Linked DNA regions of Homo sapiens: all the other regions are linked to region 2. Evidence: fine-mapped expression QTL. A gene starts in region 2. Each other region holds a variant in brackets. All regions are shown on one strand. Distances are from middle to middle.

What was found.
Region 1: its variant is fine-mapped to the expression of MYLIP in whole blood (TOPMed, PIP 0.93).
Region 3: its variant is fine-mapped to the expression of MYLIP in aorta (GTEx, PIP above 0.99). The same link has a PIP of 0.9 or more in tibial artery.

Annotation. Positions count from the first base shown.
Region 1 is chr6:15,886,065-15,890,340 of GRCh38, reverse strand. No RefSeq gene overlaps it. Among named protein-coding and RNA genes, the nearest start is that of LINC02543, 110 kb to the left of the region's middle. The variant T/C (reference allele first, on the strand shown) is at 2,372.
Region 2 is chr6:16,126,492-16,130,636 of GRCh38, reverse strand. MYLIP (myosin regulatory light chain interacting protein) reads right to left here and starts at 1,551. Exons shown (of 7, transcript NM_013262.4): 1 at 1,228-1,551; 2 at 1-80. The coding sequence starts at 1,314. RefSeq lists a silencer at 870-1,869.
Region 3 is chr6:16,191,974-16,196,249 of GRCh38, reverse strand. No RefSeq gene overlaps it. Among named protein-coding and RNA genes, the nearest start is that of GMPR, 44 kb to the left of the region's middle. The variant G/A (reference allele first, on the strand shown) is at 2,493.

The DNA.
Region 1 (4,276 bases), 240 kb after region 2:
TCATTCTTTTACATAAATACTGGGGATTGATTTATAAAATACCTAAAAATGTTCAACAACTGTAAGCCCTACTGTATACCAGGCCATGTTCAGGAAGCTAGGCATTTCCAGAACATTCTATGCACTGATATTATTTTGTCTTTTTTTGTTTGTTTGTTTATTTTGAGACAGAGTCTCACTCTGTCGCCCAGGCTGGAGTGAAATGCCACGATCTTGGCTCACTGCAACCTCTGCCTCCCAGGTTCAAGTGATTCTCCTGCCTCAGCCTCCTGAGTAGCTGGGATTACAGGCACACATGACCATGCCTAGGTAATTTTTGTACTTTCAGTAGAGACAGGCTTTCGCCATGTTGTTCAGGCTGGTCTTGAACTCCTGACCCAGGTTATCTGCCCGCCTTGGCCTCCCAAAGTGCTGGGATTACAGGCATGACCCATCACGCCTGGCCTTGCTCTGATATTATTTTGGAGGGTTGCATAATTTTACAATTCTATAATGGGTAAAGAAATATTCCACTAGACATGGGTAGGGTTCAGAGGAGAAAGAAAAGGAGAATCTGAACCACAAAAATAAATAAAATTAAATAGTTCTTTACTGTGGGATTCCTCAGAAACTTTACTATACTAGTGTGCATGTAAATCTTCAAGAGCATTTCTCAAGCACATTTGATCACAGAATCCTCCCACCACCCTCTCCACATTCCATTGCCTAACATCTTCTGGAACATTCTGGTGAGTACTTTGAGAAATGCTAGTTCAAAAGGTTTCTATTTGGCAAGAGGAAAAGAGCAGGGTGCTGAAGGAAGCACAGACACAGAGCTGGCGCCCTCAAGGACTTGATTCCACATTGGGAACAAAGGCTTTGTCTTCTGGGAGGCCGACCTCAGAAGTTGATGGGTCTTTTTTATCATTGCTTGTTAAGACCAGCAGCAGAGCAGTTGGTTGATCAGCAGTGTCGTTGTCTCCCAACTGCTGTGAGCCATAAGGAGTTCCACATGTGGAAAGTCTGTTAGTAGCACAGGACGTTTGGCGTCCCTGTGGAGACAGAGTGAGGATTGACAGCATGTGTTTGGTGCTCTTCTCTGGCCAGGGCAGAGAGGAAAGCAGAGGGAGATAAAGGGTCCAGTCCCGCTCAGACCTAGCACTCCCTAGGACTGCTCTGCTGACTGCTTCCAAATTCTGGCAGCGTGTGCCTAAGCCAGCTTTCTTAGGTATAAAATGGGGATATGTACTACCTAAGCGTTCTTGTGGGGACTAAGTATGAACCATAAGGACCTGTGCAAATATTGGAGGTTACTTTTTTTTTGGAGACAGGATCTCACTCTGTTGCCCAGGCTCAGGCTAGAGTGCAGTGGTGCAATCATGGCTCACTGCAGGCTTAACCTTCTGGGCTCAAGCCATCCTCCTGCCTCAGCCTCCCAAGTAGCCTCCCAAGTAGACGTGAGCCACCAGGCCCAGCTAATTTTTAATTTTTTTTTAGAGATGAGGTCTCCTTATGTCGCCCAGGCTGGTCTCAAACTCCTGGGCTCCAGCAATCCTCCCATCTCGGCCTCCCAAAGTGCTGGGATTACAGATATGAGCCACCACACGCAGCCTGGAAGTTACTTTCATTATCATAATTATTATCACCAATAAGATTCTCTTGCTAAGTTCATCTGAATGATAACCCAGGGGAAACTTGATTTGAGAATCCATAACCATGCACAATTTTTGCACTAGTTTTTCATAAATGTTGCAGAGCAGGAGAGAGAGAGATGGAGAGAGACACACACACACAGTCATTTATTCAACAGTGTGGGGGTCCTAGAGTCTTTAGAAGGAAAGTGTTTGTTGTATGTGCTCTCTGAAACCTTGAAAGTGAGCTGAAAATCCACATCATTCTACTGTTTAATAGTCCATGGTCTCCTGTCATCATTCCAAATGTGTCTTATTGACAGACGGTTTCTTTGGGAGAGCACCTCAATGATTAATTGAATAGAAAACACCACTCATCTTTCTGCAGGCCGGCGCTTGTTTAGTAAGGTTAAATTGAAGCAATGCACAAGGAATGGAGAGAGTAGAAGAGCAGCTTATTTTCCTTCAGGCTTTTCTCATCATCCCAATTCTATTTTTGCAGACATGACTGTGAACATGGAGACAGCTTCCACCCACCTTAACCAGACATATCTAGTCCTGCTGGCGACTCTCAAGCTGGAGCCTAGCAACCCAAAGTCATGGTTCTTTTCATTAATAATCCTTCTTGATCCACTATTTCATCCTGTTTTATTTACTAATTTGCTAGAATATGCATTGAACTTATTCTCGAATTGGCACTGTGAACTCTCTGTTCCTCCTTTTATTGTGCAATTTCATTCTGGGTGGGTTTGTTTTGTTTC[T/C]AGCTAAATAGCTTCCCTCCTTTCCCCTCCACCCATCCTGTGTGAAGATCCACCCTTTCTTTTTTTGGTGCCACTTTCAGGCCCTGGACAATATCTCCCTTTGATGGCCTTCCTCTACCCAGATAGAACTCCGTGGAGTTTTTCTGTCTGCTGAGACCATCCACGTGGTATTTGGTCTAACGGGCCCCAGCATGCCTGGAGAGATAGAAATACACATGCGCTTTGAATGGGACCTTTACTTCTAATACACAAGAGAATTATGTCTTTCTGCTTGATAAATATGACCATGCTGAGTGCCCCTGACTTTCAATCTTACAAAAACCAAAATAGCAATAAGCTTTCATGCATGTACTTGGGTTTCACAGGTGCCATCTCATTAAGTCCCCAATCACCAGCTCTCTGCTGAGCTTCACTAGTGGGAGTGCGTGCTTGAGCAACCTTCTCCTCATTCAGAGTCAACAGGAAGCAGGCAAAGGTGCAGCTTGCTCTTGGGGGTCTGGAAGTCAAGAGAAATCGGTTGTTTTGAGGACTTAAGAGAACTTTTTCAATTCATAAGCTCCATAAAATGTAGGGGAATCTCTTCTAAAATGTAAACAGCCATATTATAGCTTGGGATATGCTACAAATTAGGTGTGAATGTACACACTGAGGCAGGTGCACCTTGCCCGGGACCCCTCTTTCCCCACCTTCTACCCCCGATATCTCCACAGATTCCCTCCCTCCTTTCACTGAGGTTTCTGTTCAAATATCATCTTATCAAAGAAAGTTCCTCTGAACTCCTCTTCTAACGAAACATCCAGACTTGTCCCCTCCCATCCCCTTACATTGCTTTGTTTTTCCTTTTAGCACTTATCATGAATAACATACTACTTTATTATACTCTTTTTAGTAAATATCCAATACCATGTAAAAAAATAGTAAAGGTTATAATTTTAAAACAATAAAAATGATTTTTTTAAGTGATAGACCAGGGTAAATTAAAGAAAAAAATAAGGAAAATACTTTTTAAAGGCATTGTGCTATTTCTTTAGTTATGGTGTTTGAGATGCTGTGTGATATGGGGGAAGGGGCTTGGCTTTGTGGAGACACAGACTTTGATGCCCGTTCTGGCTCTCTGATGTCCAGGCTTAGTGGCATTGGTTCAATCCCTCGCCCTTTGAACCTCTATGTCCTCATCTGAACACAGAAATAATCATTCGTATCTTTCTAGGATAATGGTAAAGATCAGCAAAAAATCTACAGTGTGCCTAGCATGAGGTCCACCCTTATTAAATTAGAGTTACTATTGTTACCTTAATTTAAATTCCATTAGTGATATGTTTCCTTATTTAATTCAAGTAGCTGATAGCATTTAATTTGTGAAATCAGTGTCACGAATGACATTTCTCGCTTTGGACAGGAACTGAATTACTTATTACCATGGAAGAGTAAGTTTACTCACTTTGCAATTATAATATTAATATAGATTCCTGGTACTTCAGAAACTGTTCAGCCTTATTGATACACAACTGAAAAATTAAAATAAGCAATGGTACCGCCCACCAAAAAATAGAAAGAAAGAAAAAAAGAAAAGAAATGAAAAGTCATAGCATACTACCTCACCAAAGGAGGCAGACAAGGAGGCTTAAGCTATACAACTTGATCTCTGACCTTGGAAAAATGACCCAAAGTACAGTGTGAACTGATGATAAGTTCTTAATAACTGACTTGTTTTCTGAGAGCCTGGCTATTAAAAAAAAATTCCCCTTTCTGACTATTATTATATTCAATTTAAAAATATTATTAAGTGATTGCAACTTATCACACCCTATGCTTGGCCTTGGAATACCACTATGCATGGGTCAGATCCAGACCTGTTTCCCAGGACTCAGATGCCAGTGGGAAATAGAGACAAGTATAGATTCT
Region 2 (4,145 bases):
AGCCATAAACTTTCACCTTTGCTACCCGTAAACTGCAGTCCAAAATAGTCAACTTCTATGATTCCCAGTCGCCTGCACACCTAAAACAAAAAGGAATGCAGCCTGGATGAGCAAATGGTACGTATCAAAGCAAACCCAACGGCTCCCTGAGGCTAAGATTGCTGGTGCTTTTTACAAAGTTCAATGGTGTTACAATTCCTGATCTAAACTGGAAAAACAAAGTTCCACGGCTCCAATGATACCAAACCACGAGCTCTAGTATGGAGGCTCATAATTCCTTTTAACGTCTAGGGCATGACCAATTGCAATAGAGAAAAAAGGAGTCCTCAAAAGTAGCCTTCCAAAAGATGAGGAGGGGAAACTACAGGGTATTTTCCTTCGTATTCCAATCACCGGAATTCCCTCCACCAGCATACTCTGCACAGCTGATTTTTGGCGACTTATTATCTGGGCAATTTTAACCATTTGGACTCCAAAAATCAAACACATTGAGGGAACACGCCACAAGTGTCAGCTAAGCTTCACAAGCGGTTTTCCAAACATCTCAGAGCTAGAGGGGTTGAGGGCACAGCGTTTTCCTGGGATCACATGTGCTGTCTGCCATACCACCTCTGCACTATTTGGCACCGATCTCCCTCACTGTTAAGGAAACACATGCTTAAAAACAACCGAGCAGTAGATGACCCAAACCTATTCCTCCCGTCCCCCGCAAACCCGGAGATGCAGGTGAACGGTGCATTTGAGAGCAGCAGCCTGAGAAGCAGCGTGAGACAAGGGCCCGGCTTGTCTGCCAAGAACCCCTGGGGCCCGAGACTGCTTCGAGCCACTCCATCCCATCCTGGCACGCGGGTGGCACTGCCAGGCGCCGCGGGGACCCGACAGGCGGCATCACGCACATACCTGCGGCAGGTGTGCGGAGCCGCCTTCTTCCGGGAAAGTGCTGGGTTGGGGGGATGATGGGGCGCTGGGGGGTGGATCCCGGCTGCGGGCTGCGCCCGGCCCTCAGCGCTGGGGACCCCCGCTGCGCGCTTTCTCCGCGCACCCCACGCGCGCCAGGAGGAGACCGCGCGCCCCACGCCCGTGGAGAGGAGGGGACGCGCTCCCCCCGGCTGCCGCCGCAGTGCCTCCCGGCCCCTAGTAGGGGGCGCGCCAGAGTGCCAGGCGTCGCTGCGAGGCCCCTCGGCCTCGCGGGACCCGCCGGGGCCCCTTCTTGCCCCTCGCCCTCACCTGGTTGAGGCAGTCCTCGCCGTTGGCTTTCGCCTCCACCTCCACCTCCATCAGCACCGCGTCCGGCCTCGTCACATAACACAGCATGGCTGGGGCTGCCGCTGCCGCCACAGCCGCCTTCTCTTTGGTGTGCGCGGGGCTGCCGCCTTGTCACTGGTGGGACCCAGCCCCGGACTCGGAGAGGGCTGGCCCTCGAAGGCTGCAGCTCTGCGGACCCTTGTCCGGGGCCCCGCGGCCGCCACTCGCGTCCCCGCCACCCCCTCACCCGCTGCCCGCCAGCTGCCCCTGTCCTCCGCGGTGGCGCCGCACTCCAGCAGCCCAACTGCCTGCGCTGCGACAGGGACTCTGCTGATATAGCGGCCCCGCCCCCTTCAGCTCGGGTCCCCGCCAATCACGGCCTCCCTGCCCCTCCTCCCCCGCCCGATCAGCCAATAGCGGCGCCCCTCGACCGCGGCCCCCGCCTCCCAGAGCCGGCTGAGTTTCCCTGGCCGCCCCGGGAGGTGGCAGCTTGCGGGCGCCGAGTGCTGCGGGAAGGGAGGGAGACCCCGGAACACACCAGCCGCCTCTGTCCGCTGGGCGACGCTGCTCAGAGTGAGCGATCGCCCGGGGCTCCAGGCGGGGACGCCTTTCTGCCGTCTCGAATTTACGGTGATTAAACACCTCCAAGCTGCCACTGTTCTTCAAATATCTTGGATCACTCTGAGCACGCATTTCGGTTGTGAAAGCAAAAAGGAAAAGGAGCAACCCAAAGCCTAAAGAAAACTGTTCTCGTCCGGGCATGGTGGCTCACGCCTGTAATCCCAGCACTTTGGGAGGCCGAGATGGGTGGATCACCTGAGGTCAGATTCGAGACCAGCCTGGCAAACATGGTGAAACCCCCGTCTCTACTAAAAATACAAAAAAAAAAACAAAATAGCCAGGCGTGGTGGCGGGCACCTGTAATCCCAGCTACCTGGGAGGCTGAGGCAGGAGAATCGCTTGAACCCAGGAGGCGGAGGTTGCAGTGAGCTGAGATTGTGTCACTGCACTGTAGCTTGGGCAAGAAGAGCAAAAAACCCTGTCTCAAAAAAAAAAAAAAAAAAAAAAAAAAAAAGAAAAGAAAAAGAAAAAAGAAAAAAAAAAGAGAAAAAGAAAACTCTTTTCCACCAGGATTAGCCACAGTGGGTTGCTTGGAGGCAGAATTGTTGTTCCTTATTAAGACCTCATCATTGAGAAAAACAAAATCTGAGTATGAAAGTTTTTGCAGCTGACCAGTGAGCCAGGTGTCTTGGTCTAGTGCTGGTGTGTTACACTCCGGAAGGGCTTCTCCTTACTCGTTCTGCTGAATCAAAACGCCTTACAGGGTACCAGGCCCTCTCTCAGGTTGCTCATTCTACCTCCTGTCTTATCTCACTCATTCATTAAACATTTGTGCAGCACCTGATACCCTGCCTGTCCCTTCTCACAGGCAACCAGATGTTGTCCTCGTCTTAAGGTAAGGTGCTCATCTCCTGACCTAACAGGTGGCATTACTGCAATATTAGCTATTAAAGGTCTACAACCCTTCACTCATTTACCGCTTGTTCCTCTTTGCCAATATATTACATAGCCTACCTTTTTGATTTCTTTATAGGAGCCAGATGATGTGGGTTTCAGCCGTGGAAACTTAGCAAACTTACTTCAGGCCAGCTCGATGGCTCACACCTGTAATCCCAGCACTTTTGGAGGCCGAGGCAGGAGGATCGCCTGAGCCCAGCAGTTTGAGACCAGCCCGGTTTCGCAACACAGCGAAACCCCATCTCTACACAAAATACAAAAAATTAGCCAGGCGTGGTGGCGCCTGCCTGTAGTCTCAGCTACATGGGAGGCTGAGGTGGGAGGATCACTTGAGCCTGGGAGTTCGAGGCTGCAGTGTGCTGTGATCCCCCTACTGCACTCCAGCCTAGGCGACAGAGCAAAAGACCCTGTCTCTAAACAACAACAACAACAAAAAGAAAACAACGAAAGAAAAAAAAAGAGAAAACTTACTTCATCTGTCTGAAGCTTGGTGTTGTCAACAGTAAAATGGAGATGGCAATATCTGCTCTGTCTCCACCCAGCATTGTTGGGAAGCGCAGCAAAGATAATAACGTTCACAAAAGCATTTGAATGTCCCCGTGTATGTAAGGGGAGCTATAAGTTCAGTGCCTTCACTGCTTAATGATGACTTTTCCTGTCCCTACCCCCCTTCACGAGTCCCAAGGATCTGTTAGTGGCCTTTATTTCCGAACAACCAGGTACGATATCAGAGCCCAAGGCTAAAAAAAAAGGAGGGATCCTCCCACACACAGTTCTTTGCTAAAGCTGACCGAGTAAAACTGTAAACTGTCCAAGTCCTAACCCCCACTGTTGCAGAGGAACAGGTGCACTCTCACATCTTTCTGTCTTATAAATACACCTCATGCTATTGTGGGCTGAAACAGTCCCTTCTTGTATTAACTGCAGTGCCTATTCCCTGAATTCCAGTTTACTAATAATCTGGGGAATTTATCTGGAAGATAGCGTTTGGTTCATTCCTTGTCTACTTTATGCTTAATTGCTAGAAGTTTCAGAAGAGGAAGAAGAGGCGAGGGGCAATAGGGAGACCAGTTATATTGGTTAGTATTTTTGTTTATGAACAATAGAAACTAAAGCTGGCTAACTGGAAACTCATAGAATCAATGGGACCAGGTGTGGAAATGAGTAGAACGGGAAAATATTGGTTGGCCAAGAAAAAAAAAATAAACAAAAATAAAACAAGCAAACACCCAAACCAAATACCCACTTTGTGGACTACTTTAAAAATAACTTATATTTTTGGTTTTAGCAGGGATTTTTCTTTTGCAAGTATGATTTCATTGTTTTTTTAAAAAATCTAAGCTTGTAAAATAGTTTGTAGAAGCATAGGTAAAATCTGACAT
Region 3 (4,276 bases), 66 kb before region 2:
AGTGCACCTGGCCCAGAACCTTCTATTCAGCCGTTTTGCTGCCTACTTTAGCATTTTCTAATCTAATCTCAGAATCTGTTATATGAAGGAAATCTATTAATGGGAACCAGTCTATTATTTGGAACTAATGTTGCAAAGAATGTATTTTAAGAAACATTGCATTATATCATACAGCCACAAATAAACTTGCATTTCTGGATGTGTGAACCATATTAAAACATTTTTTATATGGAATATTTCAAATATATGTGAAAGTGGAGAGAATAATATAATGAACTCCACATACTTATCATCCAGCTCAGTAATGGTTATTAGTTATTTTTTTCTTTATATCCCCATGCATTTCCCCAGTCACTCCCAATTATTTTTATTTTTATTTTTTTTTTAGAGGCATGGTTTCACTAAGTTGCCTAGGCTGTACTTAAACTCCTGGGCTCAAGCAGTCTCCCCTGCTTCAGCCTCCTGAGTAGTTGAAACTTCAAGCTTGGGTCACTGTACCTGGCTTCTCCCAATTATTTTGAAGCAACCCTTAGACACCATATAATTTTATTTGAAATATTTTAGTATGTATCTCTGAAGACTCTATTTTAAATGTAATTACATCATCATCTTATCCCCCAAATTGTAATTCTAATTCTTTAATATCCATGTTCCTATTTTCCTGATTATCTATAAATGTTCTGGTTCTAATTTGCTTTGTTGTTTTTTGTTTTAAAGTGCATTTGAAATAGGATCCACAAAGCTCTATATATTACTGTTGGCTAATAATAAGTTCTTAAGTTTCTCTCTCTTTTTAAAATATTTAAATAGGGTCACGCTATGTTCCCCAGGCTGGTCTTCAACTCCTGGGCTCAAGAGATCCTCCCACCTCAGCCTCCCAAAGTGTTAGGATTACAGGTGTGAGTCATCATGCCCAATCCTCAAGTCTCTTTTAATGTAAATATTCTCCCTCCTTACATTTGTCTTTCATTCTTGTGATTGTTGTTGTATAGAAGAAATAGACCCTTTGTCCTGAGTTTCTCATAGTGTGGATTTTTCTGATTTCATCCCCACAGTGTTGCTTAACATGCTCCTCTGTCCTCTGTATTTTCTGTTAGATACAGGTGCTTGAACAGATTTTTTTTTTTTTTGCAAGACTATTATATAGGTAGTGTGGAATACTTCCATCAAGAATCATAAAATGTCACTTTCTAAATGTTACCAGCCATTGTTGATCATTGCTGAGAAACATTAATTCCTTAATGATTCAAATAGTGATATTTTAATTATTTCTTCTTCATTTGTTGGGTAGATTACTTATGTAAAAAGAAACTTGCCCTTGTTAAATATTTGGTTACACTGAGATACAGTTCATATAAAAAATGAAAGAAAAAAATGCTTGATTCTTTCTCCCTATTGATCAGTTTTCAAAATAGTGCATCGGTTCCCTAGAGCCTCTAAAGAATACCAAATGTGTTTCTGTTTCAGTGTTATTATAAACCAATGGATTTAAATACAGTCCATGTGTTTCAACAAATATTTTCTATTTGTTTACATCCATTTTAATTCTTCTCTTTATTGATGCTCAAATTTGTTCCTCTTTGCTCAATAAGAGCTCTTCAGCCTTAAAAAACGATCCCAGTCATTTTCCTGCCATGTGGTATGACAAGATGTTCTATGCTCATCTTGTACATTTCCAGCTCCAGATATCAAATCAGCCATTTCTCCAAAGTGCCCTGGTTTCTTTTAGTGGGAAATGGTATTTAGAAACCACAATCTAAATATGACATTTCTGAGTTTAATATAGACAAAATCTCCTCAGGCTTCACTTATTTCATATGACAAAAAGCAAAAACCAAAACACCTTATTTGAACTTGGTCAATTTATTTTCTTACTTTCAATTTTCTCATTTGTAAAATGCAGATGATAATAATCCTTGCTTATAGGTTTTGGTGCAGATTAAACAAGTCAATACATGTAAAGCATTTAGAATAGCACCTGTGCAAGCGAGCGCTTAATAAATGTTAATGATGATGGTGATTGAACACAGCATTAGCTTTATAATCAGATCTCGATATATGGTGATTGATTTTAAGATCAAAATATTCTTCTTTGACAACTAACAACTCTCCTTGATTATCCATCCAGACATCCCAAATTCACTTGACCTGCTTTCAGCATTCACATTATTGCAGCGGGGTTCAATGGAAGAAGTCAAGGAGAAAGAGCAACCAACTTCAAAGTTATTTTTTGCTTCTTGGAAGACCATCTGCTGTCATGACCCATTTCACGACATGCAAATTCATCAGCTGAGCTCAATTTCCCTTGAATCAGTGGCCCAGTAAATATAATTACTCTGCTAATTTTAAATTCCAAATGGTCAGCTCAGGTTAAAGAATGCTCATTCAGCAGTTGAAATTCTATAACGAATTGAGAAAACAGAGGGTCTACATGCCAGGATTTTGACAGAGAAGCAGGGAACAATTTTGTTTCTTGTCACCTCCTAGGCCAC[G/A]GGCACACAACAAATAGGAACATTTCCAAATATTTTCCTCTGAATTTTTTTTGTGTGTATGTGTTTGAAATAGGAACTTGACACTTCAGAGAATGGGTAAGGAAATGTGTCTTCACAAACCTGGACTTTTCAAGACTAGGCTGATCTCTTTAAGAGGAATGGGGTGGTTGGTTCTAGAATAAACTATTCAAAGCCCACATTAAAAATAAAGTAATTTGTGACAATGAAACGTTTTCGAAATAATGCATTTGTTCCCTAGAGCCTCTAAGGAACATCAGTGTGTTATTGGACTGGATAATGTACCAAAAACTGCTTTAAAGGATATTATTAGGACAATTATTAGGACATCAGTGTGTTATTGGACTGGATAATGTACCAAAAACTGCTTTAAAGGATATTATTAGGACAATTGGTAAATTTGGCATAAGATTATAGATTAAGGTATTATGTCAATATTAAGTTATCTGAATTTTATTACTTTCTTGTTCTTAGAAAATATACACTGAAAAAATATACGCTGAGGAGTAAAGGGTCATGAAGTCTGCAAAGTACTTTTAAATGACCCAGAAAAACTTAATGTGTGTGTCTGTGCAGACAGAGAGAGTGAGGAGAGAGTGCATGCACACACAAGAGCTCAAGTGTGTCAAAATGTTAAAAATGGATATGGTGAATTTGGGTAAAGGGAATAGGGGAGTTCTCTATAGAATCCTTGACAGTCTGTTATAAATTTAAAATTATTTCTAAATAAAATGTTTGTTTTTGCTTGTTTTTTTTGAGACAGAGTCTCGTTCTGTCACCCAGGCTGGAGTGCAGTGGCGCGATCTCGGCTCACTGCAAGCTCTGCCTCCCGGGTTCACACCATTTTCCTGCCTCAGCCTCCCGAGTACCTGGGACGACAGGCACCTACCACCATGCCCGGCTAATTTTTTTGTATTTTTAGTAGAGACAGGGTTTCACCGTGTTAGCCAGGATAGTCTCAATCTCCTGACCTCGTGATCCGCCCACCTCGGCCTCCCAAAGTGCTGGGATTACAGATGTGGGCCACTGCACCTGGCTAATTTTTTGTATTTTTAGTAGAGATGGGGTTTCACCTTGTTAGCCAGGATGGTCTCGCTCTCCTGACCTCGTGATTCGCCTGCCTCAGCCTCCCAAAGTGCTGAGATTACAGGCATGAACCACCGCGCCCAGCCAGAAAGGATTTTTAAACCTAGTGTTATCCCAGCAGCTGAGTGCACTGGCTCATGCTCGTAATCCCAGCTACTCAGGAGGCTGGGGAGGGAGGATCACTTGAGCCCAAGTGTTCAAGATCAGCCTGGGCAACATAGTGGGATCTTCTCTCTTCAAAAAATAAATAAAATGAAATATATTATTACCCCATTAAAACACACTTTCTCCAGCTGGGTGTGGTAGCTTATCCCTATAATCCTAGCACTTTGGGAAGCCGAGGTGGGCGGATTGCCTGAGCTCAGCAGTTCAAGACCAGCCTGGGCAACATAGTGAGATCGCCCGTCTCTATTAAAAATACAAAAAATTAGCCAGGCATGGTGGTGCACGCCTGTGGTCCTAGCTACCTGTGAGGCTGAGACAGGAGAATTGCTTGAACTCAGGAGGCGGAGGTTGCAGTGAGCTGAGATTGCACCACTGCACCCCTGCCTGGGTGACAGAGTGAGACCCTGTCTCCAAAAAAACAAAACAAAACAAAAAAACACACTTTCTCCAAGATTGTTCCTGTGTGTGTCCCTGATGAGACTGCCTTGCCTGCTTACAGGTCAGAGGTGTGTAGG